Linked DNA regions of Homo sapiens: region 2 is linked to region 1. The links come from fine-mapping of genetic effects on gene expression. A gene starts in region 1. The other region holds a variant in brackets. All regions are shown on one strand. Distances are from middle to middle. Region 1 holds the start of RAB23 (RAB23, member RAS oncogene family). Region 2 has its middle 20 kb from the start of LINC03001.

Region 1 (4,399 bases):
TACATCTTTAGCCATTAGTTAAAGGCACATTAAAACCACAAGGAGATACCACTACACACCTATTAGAATGGCTAAATTTAAAAAAACTGACACTATCAAATGCTGGGAGTATGTGGAGCAACTAGAACTCTCACATGTTGCTTGTGGGAATGCAAAATGACACAGATACTCCAGAAAACAGTTTAACAGTTTTTTAAAAGTTAAACATACATTTACCATATGACCCTGCAATCCACTCCTAGCAATACCCTAGAGAAATGAAAACATGTCCATGCAAAAACCTGTACATGGTATTTATAGCAGATTGATTCATAATCACAGAAAACTGAAAACAACCTCAATGTCCTTCCATGGGCAGATGTTGAAACAGACTGTGGCATATCCACATAATAAAATAGTACTCAGCAATAAAAAAAGAAATTATCCATACATGAAACAACTTGGAGAAATCTTAAAGGCATTATGCTGAGTGAAAAAAAGCTAACATCGAAAGATTACTAACTGTTATGATTTCATTTCTAGAAAAGATTAGTAATTGCCAGGGGTAAGGAGTATGATATAATGGGATCACATTAGGTTTTTTTTCTGTGGCGGGGGAGCGATAGATTTGTTCTACATCCTTACTGTAGTGGTGGTTACATGAGTCTAAAATTCGCAGAACTGTACATCGAAAAAAAATCAATTTTACCATACACTTTTTAAAATAATAAATTAATTTCCTTAAAATAAATTTAAAGAAAAAAGCCAAATTAAATTTTAACAGGCAGTCGGACTCTTGCTTTTCAGAAACTATAGACTTAAAGCACTAGATCAAAACAATTACGTTCCTAGAAATAAGCATACTTCTGAGTACAATTAAAAACCTCGACAATAATACTTTATATAAATACCCTTTCCCCAAAACTTTTAACATTTTGCTAATGCGGTCTAATAAATTAGAGAAGCAAAGGGTGAGTTAACTCACTAATCAAAAGGTTGTTTTCTCATAACAGCCTTTATTTAAGTAGAAGTACAGGTTATATTTGTAAAAATACTGAAAAACTTCTTAGGGTCAATGAAATTACCTAGATGTTAGGAGATACATAAAAACCTAGAGAAGTTAACAGCCCTTTTCAGACCCTACTGCCACTTCACTAGCTCCTGATAATGAAGTTCTTACTCTCACACGCTCTCAGGTTCTTACTCCTGGGAACTGCCGATGGCTCCTCGGATCTCCGAGTAAAGTTAATTCTGTAGCAACCAGTGTCAATGGAACAGCACAATTTGGCTCATTCATATTCCAGCACTCTATGAACAAGAAACTAGGGAAGGGTGGGGTCGCGGGTAAAGAGTGGTCGCACTGCAGGGAGGAGTCTAAATGCCAGGGTGGAGCTGAGGACTCTCTTCGCCATCAAACCTAACCTGAGCACTTCACGCCCTTACTGGTGTCTGGCCCAGCCCGGGTCGCCCCTTCCCCAGTCGGGACTTGGGGCAGGCAAAAAGCCGAACGTTCGGCCAGACTGGGGACGCAGCGCCGCCCTCGCTCCACCCCTCTTTCCCGCCCACCAGGCAATTCCAGGTACCCACCGCTGGGAGCTGGGAGGGGGCGCCGGGCTGGCGCTGCCGCCCACCTTCTCTAGCTGGAACTTGGGATCGGTGCTCAGGGAGGGGAGAGCCGGCGCTCGGCGGTCCGAACCGGGGGATGGGGGAGCCGGGCCGGGAGGCCCCTGCCCTCGATACCCCTGCCCACTCCGGAGAGTAAGGCACAACCCGGGACCCCGGGGAGAAGCTGAGTCTTCCCCAGTGGAGCCGGACGAACCCCCAGCCCCTGGAGAGGGCGAGTGAGTGCAGCGCCGCTGCACCGCAGCGCGAGCCGCTACTCACCGTCCCCCACCGGCCGCGGACCCGCCGCCCGGCGCCACCGGCTCCTCCTGGTCGCGGCGCAACCGCTGCCGCCGCTGTCTCCTCCCGACGCGCCAGCTCTCCCTGCGGGGCCGAGCGGCTAGTTCGCACCCTCTTTCGCTCTCTTAAGAATGATTATGATTTTTAAACGAACTTTATTAGTAGCCAGGGCTCAGATTGAGTGGCTCAGCAGCAGCTCCGCCGGGGGTGGTGGGGCGCGGGAGTCTCGACTCCCCTCATCTGTGGACCCGCCGCGCTGCGGAGCATGCGCCGTGCTTCGTCTGCGCATGCTCTGTGCGGACCCGCGGCCCTGCCCCGCCCCTGTTCTGGCGGGTGGCTGGCGGCGGCTCAGCTTTCCAGGCGCCTCCAAGGGAGCCCGGGAGGGCAGTGGGGAGATCAGAGACGAGCAGGATCTCCTAGATCGTGAACTCTAGAAAAGAGAAATCGGCCAATGACGGTCCGCATGAGTTTCGCCTACAGAGTTATCACACTTCCAGTGTCCTCAAAGGGCTTGCCCCGCTTCGGACACCTACCTTATTTTCTTGACCAGATGACATCTTAAGTGGCCAAGTGAGCAAAAAAATGTCGAGCAAAGTCGAAAACGCACTCACACAGCCTGCAGGACAAAATAGAAGCCTGAGATGGTTAATTATTCAGAGAAGCGAACCAAAAACGAAAAGGTTCCGCAAAAGCAATCTCAACTTTGCTTCAGTTGTTTTTATATTTCAAAATAAAATAGAATAGAAAAAAAAGATGGAAAATACCAAGTGTTGGCCAGGATGTAGAGTAACTGCATTCTTCTACTTTGCTGCTGGAATGTAAACTGGAACAACTCCTTTGAAAAACAGTTTGGGACTGTCTGCAAAAGGTGCATACCCTATGGCCCCGCAGTTCCACGCCTGCATATAGAGCAAAGAGAAACGAATACTTAGGGTGCACGGACAGGCAGGTATCAGAATGTTCGTAGCTGCATTTATTGTAATAATTCCTTAATGAGAATAACCCAAAAGACCATCAACAATAGAATAAATTAATGAAATTACACAGAGTTCATATAATGAAACACTATACAGCAACGCAAAAAAGCATCTGCAATTACAGGCAATAACGTGAATCAACTGGGGAAACCTAATGCCCAGCATAAAAAGACAACAAAAGTACACATGGCATAAGTCCATTTCTATAAACTACAAAAACAGAAGAACTAAGAGGCTCAAAGTTAGCATAATGGTTACCTTGGTGGGCAGGGGATAGTGACTGGAAGGAGTTAGCGACTAGAAGAGGGGCTTCCAGTTAGCAACTGGAAGAGGGGCTTCCTTCTAGTGAGGTTCTCTCCGTTGATTTTGGCGCTAGTTATAAATGCGTGTCCATTTGTGAAAATTCAAGCTGTACTCTTATGCACATTTTTCTGTATGTGAATTATAATTCACACTTAATAATTTTAAAAATTAGTGGAGATTATTTTACCTATAATAGCAATAGTATTTGTAAGAAATTTAATATCAAGTAGCTAACAGATTTATCTCTAGGATTTGGTTGGCAGTATCTCTTAAACTTGAGTAACGTACTGATGCCCTTTCTGAGAAAAGAAAAAAAACAATTAAAAAGTTGGCAAATGACTTGAATAGACATTTCTCCAAAGAAGGTATACAAATGGCCGATGAGCACATGAAAAGAGACTCAAGGTCACTAATCATGAGGGAAATGCAACTCAAAACCATGAGATACAACTTCACACTCATTAAAATGATGATTATAAACAAAGCAGAACAGAAAATAAATATGAGTGTTGGCAAGGATGTGGAAAAATTATAACCTTTGTGTGCTGCTGGTGGGAATGTAAAATGGTACGGCCACTATGGAAAATTGTATGGTTCATCAGAACATTAAAAATAGAATTATCGTATGATTAAATAATTCCACTTCTGAGTATATATTCAAAAGAATTGAAAACAGGGACTCAAAAAAAAATTTGTACAACCATGTTTATAGCAGCATTATTCACAATAGCCAAAGGGTGGAAGCAACCCAAATGTCCATCAATGGATGAATGGATGAACAAAATGTAGTATATACATGCAATAAAATATTATTCAGCCTTAAAAAAGGAGGGACCCAGGTGTGGCGAGGTATCCCTGTAATCCCAGCTACTTAGGAGGCTGAGATGGGAGGATCACTTGAATCCAGGAGTTCAAGACCAGCCTGGGCAAATCCTGTCTCAAAAATAAAAGAGAGAGAGGGAAATTCTGACACATGTTATAGCATGGATGAAGCTTGAAGACATTATGCCTAGTCGCAAAAGGACAAATGCTGTATGATTCAACTTATATAAGGTACATAGAGTAGTCAAATTCATAGAGACAGTTGGGGGGTGGGAAGTGGTTGTGGGAAAGGAAGGGCAGGTGGGAATGGGGAGTTACTGTTTTATGTCTACAGTTCTAGCTTTGCAAGATGAAGAAAGTCTGGAGATAGATGGTGGTGATGGTTGCACAACGATGTGAATAAACTTGATGCTCTT
Region 2 (4,399 bases), 21 kb after region 1:
AAAAAGAAAAAAGAAAAATTAGCTGAATGTGGTTGCACGCACTTGTTGTCTCAGCTACTCAGGAGGCTGAGACTGGAGGATCACTTGAGCCTAGGAGTTTGAGATTACAGTGAGCTATGATCACATCACTGCACTCCAGCCTGGATGACAGAGTGAGACCCTGTTTTAAAAAATAAAAAATAAAAAAAGCAGATTCTCCTCTTCATGATAGGAAGTTGATAGATGTGTAAAACTGAAAACTTTTTCAGGAAACTGCTGAAGGAATGGCAAGCAGAAAAAAAAAAAACTTTAAAAAATAGCAGTATTAGCAAGGATAGAAATGGCTGTAAATACCAAAAGAAACCGAAAAAAGTGTTGAAAGTCTTTGGAAACAAGAATTGGGGGGATGGGGAGGAGTATGGAATTACTAGATTACTGTTTTAATACTAAACTATGCAGAACTATGTATTTTTTTTTTTTTTTTTGAGATGGAGTCTTGCTGAGTGCAGTGGCACGATCTCGGCTCACTGCAAGCTCTGCCTCCCGGGTTCACGCCATTCTCCTGCCTCAACCTCCCAAGTAGCTGGGACTACAGGCGCCCGCCACCACGCCTGGCTAATTTTTTGTATTTTTAGTAGAGATGGGGTTTCACCATGTTAGCCAGGATGGTCTCGATCTCCTGACCTCGTGATCTGCCCTCCTTGGCCTCCCAAAGTGCTGAGATTACAGGCGTCAGCCACTGTGCCCGGCCAGAACCATTTAATTTTTTAAACTATGAATATGTAAATAGATAAAGACATTACATTAAAATTTTCTGTGTCAACTGTAAAGTGACTGATAAAGGCTCACTATTATTAATAATATTAACAATAATAAGTTGTTTCTTCAGTTAGTTTCGTACAATGTTCTGGTACAAGGTAATGAGATCACACATCAATATCTGGAACACAGCTTGGCATACAGTAAATGCTCAGTAAATAATTCTTTCTTTCTTCCAGTATCTTTAAATAAAAATACCTAAAAACTTCCTTCATGTTAAAACACATTAAAAGCAATAAAGCATTAAAAATTTCCTGCCAATAAAATGTAGATTTACATTTATTTTGTGTTTGAAAATTGCTTTTAAATAAATAAAACAGAAAACAGTGAGCCATTTTGATTTTTTTAATCTACTAACAATGTTTTGTGAGGGAATTATTGTAATTTAAATTAGGTTATTTTTAAGAACAATAATTTAATACTAAAAAATTATGTTTTGTGGCTAAAAAATGGAAATAAAATAACTTACAATTGACTTAAATTGCGTCATGTTTTTCCAAACCAATATGATGGTTACCAAATCAGAAGGAAAAACATGTTAATCATAGTGTAAGCTTTTTTCCTAATATGGTATAAACAATTTTAAAGTTCTTACTGTATGACGTCTCAGGGTGTGTATTTACTTAACTCTCAGAGGAAGATTAGTAACATATCATGTGCCTCTTTTTCTCTTTTTTTAAACCAGTGTTGCTATCTGGGCTTTATTTGGAGCCTTGAAAAGTCCAGGCTCCTTACATTATAATTAGGCAATGATGTAATCTGATCTGGATTTGTATCTGAGGTAATCACAGGCAGTTTCACAGTGATGTTTGCCTTGAGTTTTGTGCTTCAGGAGTAAATTTTCATGGAAAAGAAGAATTTTCTAGAAATTCTGTTTTAAATATCTTTTGTGAATTTCACAGATGTTCTCAAACAATGTAGTATTACTTGTTCCATAAACCCATGTTCTCCAATTCGATATCAACTATCAATATCATCTACCAAGGTCAGCCACCTATGAAGGATAAGTGGTTCTTAGAAGGTTCCTAATGTTCAATCTGCTCTCATTTGCAATCTATAATTCTTCATTCACATCTTCACACATTCTGAATGTTAATATTGCATAGCCTCTTAGAATGCAAATGGCAAAAACATACAAATGATGATGGTCATTCACTACCTAACCCTTTCCCCTCAATAACTGCCTGGTATCAGGAAAAGGGAGCTTTAATGGGGAAAGAAGAAGGATAAGGAGTGTTTGTGTGCTACTGATGGTTGGTGGCTATTGAAAGCCTGAGTTCAGAATGGGAGGCTGTGTACATATGAGAAAGGGGGAAGAAAGATGAGGAAAGGAATGATGTTGGTCCCTAAGATAAAGATTAAGAGGGTATGTTAATTGGAATATTGGGACAGATGAGAAGGTTAAATCCTGTTTTATTTATTTACTTGTTTGCTTATTTATTTATTTGAGA[T/C]GGAGCCTCGGTATGTTGCCCAGGCTGGAGTGCAGTGGTGCGATCTCAGCTCACTGCAACCTCCGCCTGCCGGGTTCAAATGATTCTCCTGCCTCAGCCTCCCAAGTAGCCGAGACTACAGGTGCACACCACTACGCCCCGACTCTTTTTTTTATTTTTATTTTTAGTAGAGATGGGGCTTCACCGTGTTGGCCAGGCTGGTCTCGAATTCTGACTTCAGGTGATCATCCCGCCTCGGCCTCCCGAAGTGCTGGGATTACAGGTGTGGGCCACAGCGCCTGGCCAGGATTTAGTTTTTCATACAAATCTGTTTCAAAGATTCTTCCAACATTTCCTGTAAGTTGCCGAGGTTGTGGGAGAACCTGAAAGTAGCTTCTGACTTCTATGTAATTCAAAGGGCCTAATTATGCATTCTATGCTGTAGCTTTAATTATACCTGTTAAAGTATACCCCTGGCTGACAGATAGAATGGACTCCTCATGGCTGAGGTGCTCAAAAACAGAACTATGCAGCCATAGCTGGACGAGGAAGCAGTCACATATTCTGTTCTCAGAAAGATGTAGAAGTATCACTGGATCTCCCTTTCTGCAATCAAGCCTGTGACGTCTGAGTTTGGGCTTGGAAAACGACCAATCAGAGCTCACCTACCGCAGCCAATCAGAAACCAGCCATATTGACCGATCAGAACTTAGCTGCACCAACCAATCAGAACTAAGCAAGTTTGAATCCTTTATTTGCCGGAAGCTGGGCAGGAACTTGAACCCTCTCTTTGTTTAACGAAATGCACCTTCATTTTGCACCAAAGGCTGTATCTCCCAGTTTGCAAACTGTTCACTGGAATAAAGTCTCTTTCTTCCAAATTCCTTTTCAGAGAACTTTTGTTCACATAAGAAAAAATTAATTTTAAAATTGTCTTCCTCATTAAAAATTGGTTCAGCTAAGGCTTTATATGAAAATAGTGTTCTTTTCCATTGAATACAATTTTGTTGGCTGGGCGCGGTGGCTTACACCTGTAATCCTAGCACTTTGGGAGGCCAGGGCAGGTGGATCACCTGAAGTCGGGAGTTCGAGACCAGTCTGAACAACATGGATTAAACCCCGTGTCCACTAAAAATACAAAATTAGCTGGGCGTGGTGGCGCATGCCTGTAATCCCAGCTACTCCGGAGGCTGAGGCAGGAGAATCGCTTGAACCCGAGTGGCAGGGGTTGAGGTGAGCCCAGCCTGGGTGATAAGAGCGAAACTCCATCTCAAAAAAAAAAAAAATTGCTTAATTTCTGTTTTCATGCCTGTGGGTATTTGCCCTGCAACACTGCAGCAGTTTTCAAAACCAAAGTTTCTGAACTCCTTGAGGAATTCTAAAAACTCCCTGAAACGTTTTATTGCCATGTCTCTATGCTTTTATTTCGTATTAATTATGGAACACGTTTGCTAAGTCACTTCCTGAGCATAGGCAGCTCCTCTCACTCTGCTCAGGTCAGTGAGTTAGTTGATATGTGTGCAGATGCCTCAGGTACAGGCTGCAGGGATGGCTCCCGGCAGGGAAGAACTGCCCTTCCTCCACGAGTCCCAGCACTGCCCTACATTGAGGCCTTCCTCTCTCCACTGTTTCTGCTGCTGCATTTGCCCCCACCAGTCTAGGCTTAGGTGCAGGCCTACCCACCTTGGAGCCCTATGGTGCCCAGGATGGTCCCAAGGCATGTTACCAGGCCAGGTCACCAGGATGCCGGGTTGCTTGATGACTTCCATGCTGCTGTTGAGCATGCTCCATCGTCCTATCATATTAAGCTAAAAACACAAGATCAAAGATAAAATTGTTAATTATTCCAAGATAGTGTAGGTCTTTCTGAGTGCAAGGCTGTGCATGAAGCTCATACACCCATGATGCATCACCTGCCTACCTCTTACATGCTTTATGGGTTAGTTATATTTGCCATCACTGGAGGTGCCAGTAAACTCGCAAGGTAGCCTTTGTGTGAGGTTTGGTAACCAAATTGCCAAGTTAGCTCAGGGAACTGCAACTCATGTCCACCTTTCATCCACTTAGGCCTTGCTGTCTTCCCTCTTTCAGGTTTCAGTTTTGTAGATTTTGAGCCTAGATTCTCTTTCTCCATCTCTTAGAGCACAACCTAAGATAGCATTTTGATAGTC

The links. PIP is the estimated chance that this variant, and not a neighbour inherited with it, causes the effect. A credible set is the group of variants that fine-mapping cannot tell apart.
Region 2: its variant is the best candidate, but not a certain one, in a credible set for the expression of RAB23 in fibroblasts (GTEx, PIP 0.68).

Annotation. Positions count from the first base shown.
Region 1 is chr6:57,220,160-57,224,558 of GRCh38, forward strand. RAB23 (RAB23, member RAS oncogene family) reads right to left here and starts at 2,148. Exons shown (of 7, transcript NM_016277.5): 1 at 1,567-2,148. It also overlaps a transcript of PRIM2 not described here. RefSeq lists a silencer at 1,502-1,851.
Region 2 is chr6:57,241,242-57,245,640 of GRCh38, forward strand. It overlaps a transcript of PRIM2 not described here. Among named protein-coding and RNA genes, the nearest start is that of LINC03001, 20 kb to the right of the region's middle. The variant T/C (reference allele first, on the strand shown) is at 2,250.